Linked DNA regions of Homo sapiens: region 1 is linked to region 2. The links come from fine-mapping of genetic effects on gene expression. A gene starts in region 2. The other region holds a variant in brackets. All regions are shown on one strand. Distances are between the middles of the regions. Region 1 overlaps SRSF3 (serine and arginine rich splicing factor 3). Region 2 holds the start of CDKN1A (cyclin dependent kinase inhibitor 1A).

Region 1 (5,327 bases), 73 kb after region 2:
GTCCTCATTAAACTCCAAGCAGCTAGAATGAGCGAGCCAGCCATTCATCAATGCACTCTAATACTCCCAACTTCTTGGCTTTCCTGTCAGTGTTAAAGCTGGACAAGTTATCTTATACACGCTTGTTCAAATACATGGCTAAAGGAAAGTAAAAAAAAACCAATCAGATTTGGACCCACTTCAAACTTAAATAAACCCTTTTATCTCTAAATCCTAGTGCAGTTTACATTCTCAACTGTTTCTGGCTCTAAACCCCTATTTCATGATTAAGGCATTTATTTCTTCCTCTTCACCTCAGATTGGTTAGTCTCTCCTTATCATTTGAATGTGAGCTCTGGAACTGGGATGGCCAGTTGCAGTGGCTCATGCCTATAATCCCAACACTTTGGGATTACAGCCAAGGCTGGAGGGGTCCTTGAGTGCAGCCTGGGCAACAGTGAAATACCATCTTATAAAAAACAGCCTGGGGCGGGGCGCAGTGGCTCACGCCTGTAATCCTAGTACTTTGAGAGGCCAAGGCGGGCGGATCATGAGGTCAAGACATCGAGACCATCCTTGCCAATATGGTGAAACCCGTCTCTACTAAAAAATACCAAAAAATTAGCCAGGCATGGTGGTGCGCACCTGTAGTCCCAGCTGCTCAGGAGGCTGAGACAGGAGAATCACTTGAACCTGGGAGGCAGAGATTGCAGTGAGCTGAGATCACACCACTGCACTCCAGCCTGAGTGACAGAGTGAGACTCCGTCTCAAAACCAACCAACCAAAAAGAAAACTGGGGTGAAAATGAATTGTTAAAGGTCAACAGCCTAAACTTGCACTCCAGTCAAACACAAATATTATATAGATTTTTCTTTCTAGATATTGAGCTGGTGTTGTGATTTATCACTGTATCCCAGTCAGTGTTTGTATCATGGACTTTTGACATGTAGGAAAATTATGAAACAATTAAATGACAAATCAACATTCCAATTTGTATTTGTAAAATACTTTCATTGAAAACATGGGTAGTTTTATCTAAACTAAAAATAAATGTCATTATGAGATTCTGGTGGCAGCCAGCCAGCTGGATGAGGTTTTTTAAAGTTACCAGCTGCCTGAGCTTAAGATTTAGAATTGTTTCCCAAAGGAGTTATTCTTTCAAAAATGAAACTTCTAGGCCGGGCACGGTGGCTCACGCCTGTAATCCCAGCACTCTGGGAGGCCGAGGCAGGCGGATCACTTGAGGTCAGGAGTTCAAGATCAGCTTGGCTAACATGGTGAAACCCTGGCTCTACTAAAAATACAAAAAGCAGCTGGGCGTGGTGACACGCGCCTGTAGTCCCAGCTACTCGGGAGGCTGAGGCAGGAGAATTGCTTGAACCCGGGAGGCGAAGGTGGCAGTGAGCCGAGATCGAGCCACAGCACTCCAGCCTGGGTGACAAAGAGAGACTCCATCTCAAAAAAAAAAAAAAATACATAAATAACATTAAATAAAAAATAAACTTCTGTATCTCAAGACTTACATAACATTTTTTTAAAATATTCAAATATTTCCTTCTCCAAATGACCAATATAAACTTCACATCTCCACCCCACCCCCTCCCCGACCCCCCATTGCCACTGCCCAGCTCCAGGCAGCATTAGGCAACAACTTCAACAACATTCCCCTTAGCTCTACATTTTGGGGCTTTGTGAGCAAATAAAAAAACAGTGAACAACGCTAACTTGGCCAGGGAAAGGTGACTCAGGCCTGTAATCCCAGCGCTTTGGGAGGCTGAGGCAGAAGGATCGCTTGAGGAGTTCCAGACCAGCCTGAGAAACATAACCACGTCTCTTAAAAAAAGTTTTTAATTAGCTGGGCATGGTGGTGTGTGACTGTAGTCCTAGCTACTTGGGAGACTGAGGTGGGAGGAACGCTTGAGCCCAAGAAGCCAAGGCTGCAGTAAGCTATGTCACCACTGGTCTCAAAAAACAAAACAAAAACAGGAATGCTAACTTGCCCCAGATGAAATCTGAATGAAGTATATACTGAAATAAAGGTGCACAACCACAAATGAACAAGGCTTTCAAAAGAGGAGGACTCCTTCAACCTATAGACTACTTTTCTGGAAGGTTTAATTTTGCCCTGGAAATAGTATCCATCTCAGGACATTCCAAATGATTAGGGAGAAGCAAAGTATCAATGTTTTGATATTTCCACTTGCTCAAGACACATGTACTAACTTACAGTGAGGCACTACATGGCCATATTCTACATCTTTTATAGTAGAACAACTATACAATGCCTTACATCAGAAATGAGGAAAACTAAAGATTAAAACAGCAATGTTTTACACACGTATTTCATGTGTTAGTTTAGGAATCATTTTGGGTACCTTCATCAAATCGACAGAGAAAGCAGGATACTAAATGAGAATCTAAATACTGTATTATTAAGTACAGAGTCCAACAAGGGGAAAGTTGCATGGACAAAACTAATCAATTATACTAGGCTTACCAAAACAAACTTTTTTTTTTTTTTTGGAGACGAAGTTTTGCTTTCACTCAGGCTGGAGTGAAGTGGCTACATCTCGGCTCATGGCAACCTCCACCCACCAGGTTTAAGCACTTCTCCTGCCTCAGCCTCCCAAGTGGCTGGCATTATAGGCGCCTGCCACCACACCCAGCTAATTTTTGTACTGTTAGTAGAGACGGGGTTTCACCATGTTGACCAAGCTGGTCTCCAACTCCTGACCACAAGTGATCCACCTGCCTCAACCTCCCAATGCACCGGGATTACAGGCATGAGCCATCACACCCAGCCAAAACAAATTTCAATGACCTTGTCTCAGAACCTTAAGGGGTCTACAGCTGAATTATCTTCAGGTACCCGATGAATCCCCCTAATAAAACAGGATGAAAAAAATTAGAGTGGACATAAAATCAAATTCAACACTACTGGATTATTTAGAGAAAAATGTACTTCCAACCCAGTTTTTCTTCAGTAACTTTAACTAGAAATCTTTCTCGAAAAGATGGAAAACCAGAAGGCAACAATCTGGTAGTACAAAAATATACAACTAAGAAATTACCACCAACTAGGTATGACAACTAAATCTCATTCAGAACTCTGAAAAAAAGCATACTTGGACAAAATACTAAACTAGTGGTTCTCACATCACCAAGGGTATTTATCATGTAGAACTCCTCAAAATTACACAGGGTTAGGTCACCCTGAAAAACTAAGTCAATGAGCCTGGAGTCTGGCTGTATCTATTCTGAAATACCTCTTCAACAAAATTTCTAATTAGGCAGCACTGTACTAAAATGAATGTAGTAATAACCTGGATTTTCCATCCACATATGGGTTTGTGTGAAAGCCACTGACAGCAGTCTAACAGGGTGGGAGTGTCATGGACGCTGACGGGATCACGTTTGTAAGGATCTCTAAGATACTCAAATGGTAGA[C/T]ACAGGGTACCTGTGCTTGGTAAAACTACAACTTCCCTACTTTCTGCTTAAGACATGGAGGTCAGAAGCAACCCACAATGAACTGTGAACCAGAGATCAAACTAAATATTCCTTTTAATAGAAATGTGAATCTTGCCATGTTGGGCAGACTGGTCTCCAACTCCTGGCTTCAAGAGATCCTCCCACCCGCCCTAGCCTCCCAAAGTGCTAGGAATTACAAGTGTGAGCCACCACATCCAGCCAGTGTCTTTGAAAACAATCAAATATAATCCTTAATGTTTCTTTACATTGTCATCAAGTATTAGTAACAGTGACTTCTAGTGAACACCTTGATCCTTAAACCACAGGTCTAAGTTCAGTTTTGTGATTCCTTTCATTTTTACACTCAACCCTGAATATGGACAAGACCGGTTAGTGTGACCTGTTATTTTAGGAATTACAACTTTAAAAATTCCTAATAGCCACAATCTAAATGTGCAATTCAAAGCTTTTAACAATTTCCATGTTCTAAAGTTTCTAAGAGTCTTGAGGTTATGCTAGGGCTCCTGGTTAAAGTAACTGCCAACTGGGACTGTATGTCACCTAAGTCAGGATAACTCCCTGGTGAAGTTACTTTTATTTCAGGTTCTGTATTATTTCTCTTAGCCATATTATACCCGTAACTGTCCTTTTTACAGAAACCCTTCCAACTTAAGAGCCTGCAAGGAAGTCATATACTGCCCAAAAATGCCCACATAAGTTGTCCATTTATAAAAAGCAATGTAATTGACATATTGCATGGCTTCCGTAACTTCTTAGCTATCTTGGCTTGTTCCTAACAGGAACAGGTTGTAGGCTATGTGAGAATACTAAAGACAAAATGCCCAATGCCAGAGCTCTCAGTAAATAAACAGGCTGTCTGAAAAGTGTCTTTCTTGAACATGCTTAACTTTAAGGCTGAACCTTCCTGACACCAATTCTCCCAAGATTTGTGTAAAAGGTGGAAATAAATAATTTGTTTAGGAACTGTATCTTAATGTATCCATTTAGCTTGAACTCTTAATGCAATGACTTATCTTTCATATTTAAGACAGTCAATACCGCATAATCCAAAACTATCTTAAGAGCATATTTAAGGAAACTAAGCCACAAGACTGTTGCATTATGATTTAATCTAATTGCACAAAAATTTGAAATTACAACACCTGCCATTTTCTAAGAGGAAGGTTATGCATGCCTCCATATTCAATTCTGCACTGTTACATTTGAACCATATTGTGAACTTTTACATCATGATGGATCAGCTTAGAATTCCCATGCAACACCTCAAATTATAAAATGGAAGCAATTTTTAGACCTGTGGAAAGTTTTCATGCTAAAGATAAAAGCCATTTGTTAATGGGCAACTTACTTTGTGTTTAAGAACCAGGTTGCTGCTATACTTTAAAATGTTGGTCACTAAATATTATGGACCCTGAACTGGCTTCTATGCCTAAAAAAAAAAAAAATGGGTTAACTATCACTTAGGTGACATCTATATTTCCTTCACTTCAGAAGACTAATCCATAGTGCCTCTCAGCTGTTTCTTATAAAATAAGAATCGTGTAACCAACTGCTTCCCATGGGATAAGAACAATGGTAACAGTGGGTTCAACTGACTATACACAATTATGCTAATATTTTATTAATTCAAAAGCACTTTACAAGAAAATATAAGTATGGCTTCCAATAGGAATGTTATACCTGGACTTGGTACCAAGCTCACAGATTTGAGTTTGCAAGGAAAAACAGGCTTTCAAGTTAAAGAACAATTTGTAACCAAAACTTTAATCCCAAGGATTCTCACAAAACATATTACAAATGACAGCATGAAAAAAAAATCTTGCACAGTAACTCAAAGTTCGGCTCTACAATGTACCCT
Region 2 (5,354 bases):
AAAGAAAGAAAGAAAGAAAGAAAAAAAGAAAGAAAGAAAAGCACCTAGGGAGTTTTTTCAAAATATAGATTGCTGAGGCCCTGCCTCCCGAGACCAACTTAATCCAGATTGAAGATTCAAGCAAGTGTTTGGCACAATTCCTCAGATGGGCACTCTTGGGTTGCCAGCCAAGCGGAGACACACTGGTATGTTTGAAATGGACATTCTGGGTCTCAATACATCATAGGCACAAGGAGGAGGCGCCCGCCTAGGGCTTCATCAAGGTGCTGGATATTCCCTGGCTCTCGGGAGTTCAAGACAGGACTAGGATCTAGGCAGGCACCCTCTCCTCTTCTACCACCCCTCCTTCTCTTATGGCTCTCATAGGCCTCTCCTCCCCCATCAAAATCTGCTCTCATGCTCATAATAACTTTCAGCCCAAAGAAAACTCAGAAACGCAAACCCTTGTTTTAGAAACAATTAAAAATAGCCTCCTTTATTGGCCTTCCTGCCTTAGACTTCAGCCATATTTTAATTTCCAGTAAGAGCTCAGTGAATACTGTTGAACCTAAGGAGTGCTCCTTTGAAGGGGTGGTAATGGCATAGGGGTTGATCTCGGATGAGCCCAGGAGTAGCCGCGGCGGTTCGCGCCGGCCAGCCCCACTCCGCGGGAAAGCCTGTGTGCTATTCCCGCCAGGGCCGGGAGGGGGCGCCGGCCTCCAGGAAATCACGCGCGGAGTGGGAGGTGCGTGGGCAGAGCCTCGGACCGCTGGAGGGAGTAGTGATGAGTCAGTTTCCTGCAAGGCGCTGCTCGCCCGCCAAAACTGCTTCCACTCCGGCTGCGCGTCACCCTGGGGTGGGGAGGGGGAGAATGGGAGGGGACCGGGGGGCCGCGAACACGTCACGCTGAGCCGGCCAGGCTTCCGAAACTCCCGCCGCTGTTGGGAAACCGCGCGCTCTTGTGCCGTCTCTGACACAGACACACACACACACACACACACACACACACACACACACGCCCGCGCAGACACGCACGCGCGCGCGCGCCGGGAGCCGGCCCCTCCACCTTATCTCCACGCCCAAAGCACGGGATGAGTCAGATCCCTGGAAAATAAAAATAGACGGGAGCAACGAAAACAAAACCGCTCGCAAGTCCTCCCAGAAACGCGACGTGGAGGGAGGCAAGGAGAGGGGAAGCTGCCTGGGCGCCCCAAGTTCCTAACCCAGCTCCAAGATGCTTTTCCTCACGAAGAGGGCGCAAGTGTCCCCCAGGGGTTTGGGACGGAGAGGACGCGCTGTGGTCCGCGCCAGGCGGCGGCGCCCCAGGGGGCGACTCGCCCCCCTGCTCCGCTCAGCCCTGTAGCTTTCGGAGAGGGAATCTGGGCTAGGTCGGGAAGCCCTGAGCCCCCGAGGCAGCTGATAGAGGCCCTGAGCAGCGTCGTGCCCCCCAGACCCCCCACCCCTCAAAGACATGAACCCTCCCCGCCTCCCATCCAGGCGTGGGCTCCGCTCCCGCCCCGGAGTCCAGCGCCCCGACCCGAGGACAGGCTGGGCCGCGATTCTCCCGGCCGCGGTGGGAAAGAGGTAGAGGAGACCCTTGCCCTTCCCCGACTGACAGGCTGGTTAGAGCCCGCCCAGAGCAGGGCCGTGACTCCCCGACCCCTACAGCGCGCCGCGGAGCGGGGACCCGACGCGGTGTCCCGGACCTCCAGTGCCCGGCTTCCTTGGGAACAAACTGTTCCAGCCAAATAGGTCACTGTGCCGATGGGAGGACGGAGACCGCGAAGGGGCAGGGGAGAGGGCTTCTGGAGTCCCGCTGTACCCCATCCCGGGCGGGGTTCTGACCTCATACAGTCCGTTCCCTGGGGTCTCCTTGTCACAGTGAGTCACCTCCTCGCTAGTCCTTAGGGGACGGGTCCTGGCACATTCCCAAGGGCCAGGAAACAGCCCGCGCTGACCTCAGCGCTCAGCCAGGTGGTGGACACAGTGGCGTAAAGGACCTGAACCTGGGACCTGGGCCAGGGCGGCGCAGATTGGATCCCAGAGCCACCCGGGACCGATCCTAGACGAACTTACTCCACTCCGCTTTCCTCGCCCTTCCTGGGCCCCTCCAGGGACACGGACTTCATCCCCACGCCGCGAGCAAACTGCGCCTGGGGCCTGGAGCCAACCGCAGCCAAAGGCGAGCTCCCAGAACGGTCCCGTCCACGCCCTCCCTCGCCCCAGCTGGGTTTCCAGGGGCGGGGAGCGTGACCAGGGATTCCTGTACTTGTAATCCCGCTCTCCGCCCCGGGGTCTCCGGCACATCCCGACTCTCGTCACCCGCGCACTTAGAGACACCGTGTGCGCAAGCCGAGCGCGCACCGACCCACGCCCGTCATTCACCTGCCGCAGAAACACCTGTGAACGCAGCACACACCCGCGAACACGCATCCTCGCGGACACGCAGGGACACACGCGGGCACGCTTGGCTCGGCTCTGGGCCGCCGGCCCGGGGTCCCCTGTTGTCTGCCGCCGCTCTCTCACCTCCTCTGAGTGCCTCGGTGCCTCGGCGAATCCGCGCCCAGCTCCGGCTCCACAAGGAACTGACTTCGGCAGCTGCTCACACCTCAGCTGGCGCAGCTCAGCGCGGCCCTGATATACAACCGCCCCGCCCGGGCCCGCCTCAAGGAGGCGGGACCCGCGCTCGGCCCACCGCGCCGCCCGGGACCGCCCTCCCCGGGGCCCAGGCTCCTGGCTGCCCAGCGCCGAGCCAGCTGAGCCTGGCCGAGTTCCAGCAGGCCAGCCGGTCCCGGAACCTCGCGTGCTGCAGGAGGGCACTTCCCTCCTCCCCCAGTCCCTCGCCTGCGTTGGTGCGCTGGACACATTTCCCCACGAAGTGAGCCACAAATCTGGCTTTTTTTACTTGGAGAATGAGTTGGCACTCTCCAGGAGGACACAGCACTGTTAGAATGAGCCCCCTTTCTGGCTCACCGCTGACCCACTCTGGCAGGCAAGGATTTACCCAATGCAGCTGAAAAGATCAGGAGGATGACATTAATACATAAAAATTCATAAATTATAAAAACGATGCACCTCTCTGCAATTTCCAGAAAAGCCCCACAATATCACCTCTATTCCCACTGATCCCTCACTAGGTCACCTCTCCCAGAAGCACCTGGAGCACCTAGACACCCCAACAAAGCATCTTGAGGCCAGAATGATTTTTCAGTCCCGTTTATTTCACAGATGAGGAAATTGAGGTCCACTGAACTTAAGTATACAAAGTTGTTGATTGTCACATGCTTCCGGGAAGGAGGGAATTGGAGAGACTACCAAAAAAGGGCAACCTGATCTCCAGGGAAACAGAAGAATTGGACATTGAACCAATCTCCCTACACCCTACACTCACCTGAACAGAAGAAATCCCTGTGGTTGCAGCAGCTTTGTTGGCCAGGAAGGGGAGGATTTGACGAGTGAGTTGTCTGTCTCCTGAATACTCCCCACATAGCCCGTATACACTGCTGGGGAAACTGGGGCTCAGAGAAGTCTGGTGACCTAACTCAGATCATGCAGCAAAGAAATGACTATAGTTGGAACACAGGACTTTTGCCTCCTGCCCGGGGCTCTCTGCTTGTCATCCTTTATTTCTGTGGCTCCAAAATGACAAAAATGCCAAATAACCCTCATTTGCAGATGGTTTATGGAGATGACATAAATAAAGGACAATTCTGGAAGTGTCTACTGGTTCTTCTGACAGACACAGAAATGAGTGATGTGTCTATCCGCTCCCATCTACCTCACACCCCTGACCTCCCCTGGACTTCACCTTTGCCTCCTTTCTGTGCCTGAAACATTTGCAGTTTTGCTTTTAAAAAATTGCAGAGGATGGATTGTTCATCTGAACAGAAATCCCACTAAAAAACAGAACCCAGGCTTGGAGCAGCTACAATTACTGACATCTCAGGCTGCTCAGAGTCTGGAAATCTCTGCCCAGACATGCCCAGTCTTCTTCCTCTAACGCAGCTGACCTCGGGGAGGACAGGCTTCTTTCTCCTCTGCTGTGGGGATGGGAGCCCAGGTAGGGGTGGGAGGACACAGTAGCAGACCCCCTTGGCCTGCCTCGCCCTGGAGTCAGGCCAGGATTGTGGCTAAACCCCAGAAAGGCCACGGCACAGCCTCAGGACCCCACTCTAAGCCCCACTGCTGTCTGCACCTTCGCTCCTATACATCCAAACCATCCAAAGGGCTGGTTGTCAAATGTCCAGCAGAGGACAGGCACCTTCTCCCACTGCCTTGAAGCCCCTCTGCTTTCAGGCATTTCAAATAGACTAGACATTGTCTGTCTGTTTACTTTGGGGAGAAAATTTTTTTTAATAAAGGCTTGTAATGAATTATTTAAATTTTTGTGGTACTGAGCTTCACAATGAAATAATTCTTTTTGTTGTTGTTTTTGGGAAAGAATTTTTTTTATAACTTCTAGCTCACCACCACCACGACATTCAATATTTCTTAAGTACCTACTAAGTGTCTAGTACTATTCAGTGCTTTAAAAAAAAAAGTTTGCAACCATGCACTTGAATGTGTACCCAGACACACTCTAAGGGAGGACTTCTGCCCTGAAAAAGGCAAGGGAGCAGGCTGTTAAAAGTCACACACAGAATCTGACTCCCAGCACACACTCACACAAGCACACATGCATCAGATCCCAGCCCTGTCGCAAGGATCTGCTGGCAGATCACATACCCTGTTCAGAGTAACAGGCTAAGGTTTACCTGGGGTCTTTAGAGGTCTCCTGTCTCCTACCATCCCCTTCCTCACCTGAAAACAGGCAGCCCAAGGACAAAATAGCCACCAGCCTCTTCTATGCCAGAGCTCAACATGTTGGGACATGTTCCTGACGGCCAGAAAGCCAATCAGAGCCACAGCCTGCTGCCCAAGCATGTTCCTGGGAAGCAGGCAGCATAGGGATGGAGGGAGGCTCAGCCTGGGGGACAAGAGTGCCCAGTCCAGCCCCCTCCCCAGAGTGCGGTGGAGCAGCATGGGGTAGGGGAATGGTGAAAGGTGGAAAGCCCAAGCCTGAAGAAGGAGGATGTGAGGAAGGCTCAGTGGTGGCTGCAGAAGCTGCCTAGGAAGGGAGAGGAAGTGCTGGGAACAATGTCACCATTTCTCAGAAAGAGACTGGGGAGTCCCAAATAGGGGCAGTCAGCTTTCAGAGGAATTCACCTTCACACAGGCTCCCAAGAAGTGAGACCCCAGAGAAGAGGCGGAACAAAGATAGAACATTATTGAGCAGAGGCAGCCCTGGCTTTTTGTTTTCATTTTGTTTTTTTGTTTTGTTTTGTTTTTTGAGACAAAGTCAGCAGTGGCACAATCTCAGCTCACTGCAGTCTCCG

What was found. PIP is the estimated chance that this variant, and not a neighbour inherited with it, causes the effect. A credible set is the group of variants that fine-mapping cannot tell apart.
Region 1: its variant is the best candidate, but not a certain one, in a credible set for the expression of CDKN1A in whole blood (TOPMed, PIP 0.53).

The regions. Positions count from the first base shown.
Region 1 is chr6:36,602,664-36,607,990 of GRCh38, reverse strand. SRSF3 (serine and arginine rich splicing factor 3) reads right to left here. Exons shown (of 6, transcript NM_003017.5): 6 at 2,391-5,327. Among named protein-coding and RNA genes, the nearest start is that of SRSF3, 11 kb to the right of the region's middle. The variant C/T (reference allele first, on the strand shown) is at 3,428.
Region 2 is chr6:36,675,950-36,681,303 of GRCh38, reverse strand. It overlaps CDKN1A (cyclin dependent kinase inhibitor 1A), which reads right to left and starts at 2,590. Exons shown (of 3, transcript NM_000389.5): 1 at 2,506-2,590. DINOL (damage induced long noncoding RNA) reads left to right here and starts at 2,745. Exons shown (of 1, transcript NR_144384.1): 1 at 2,745-3,695. RefSeq lists silencers at 588-977, 2,548-2,777 and enhancers at 1,709-2,296, 2,308-2,497, 3,690-4,889, 4,869-4,938, 4,989-5,078.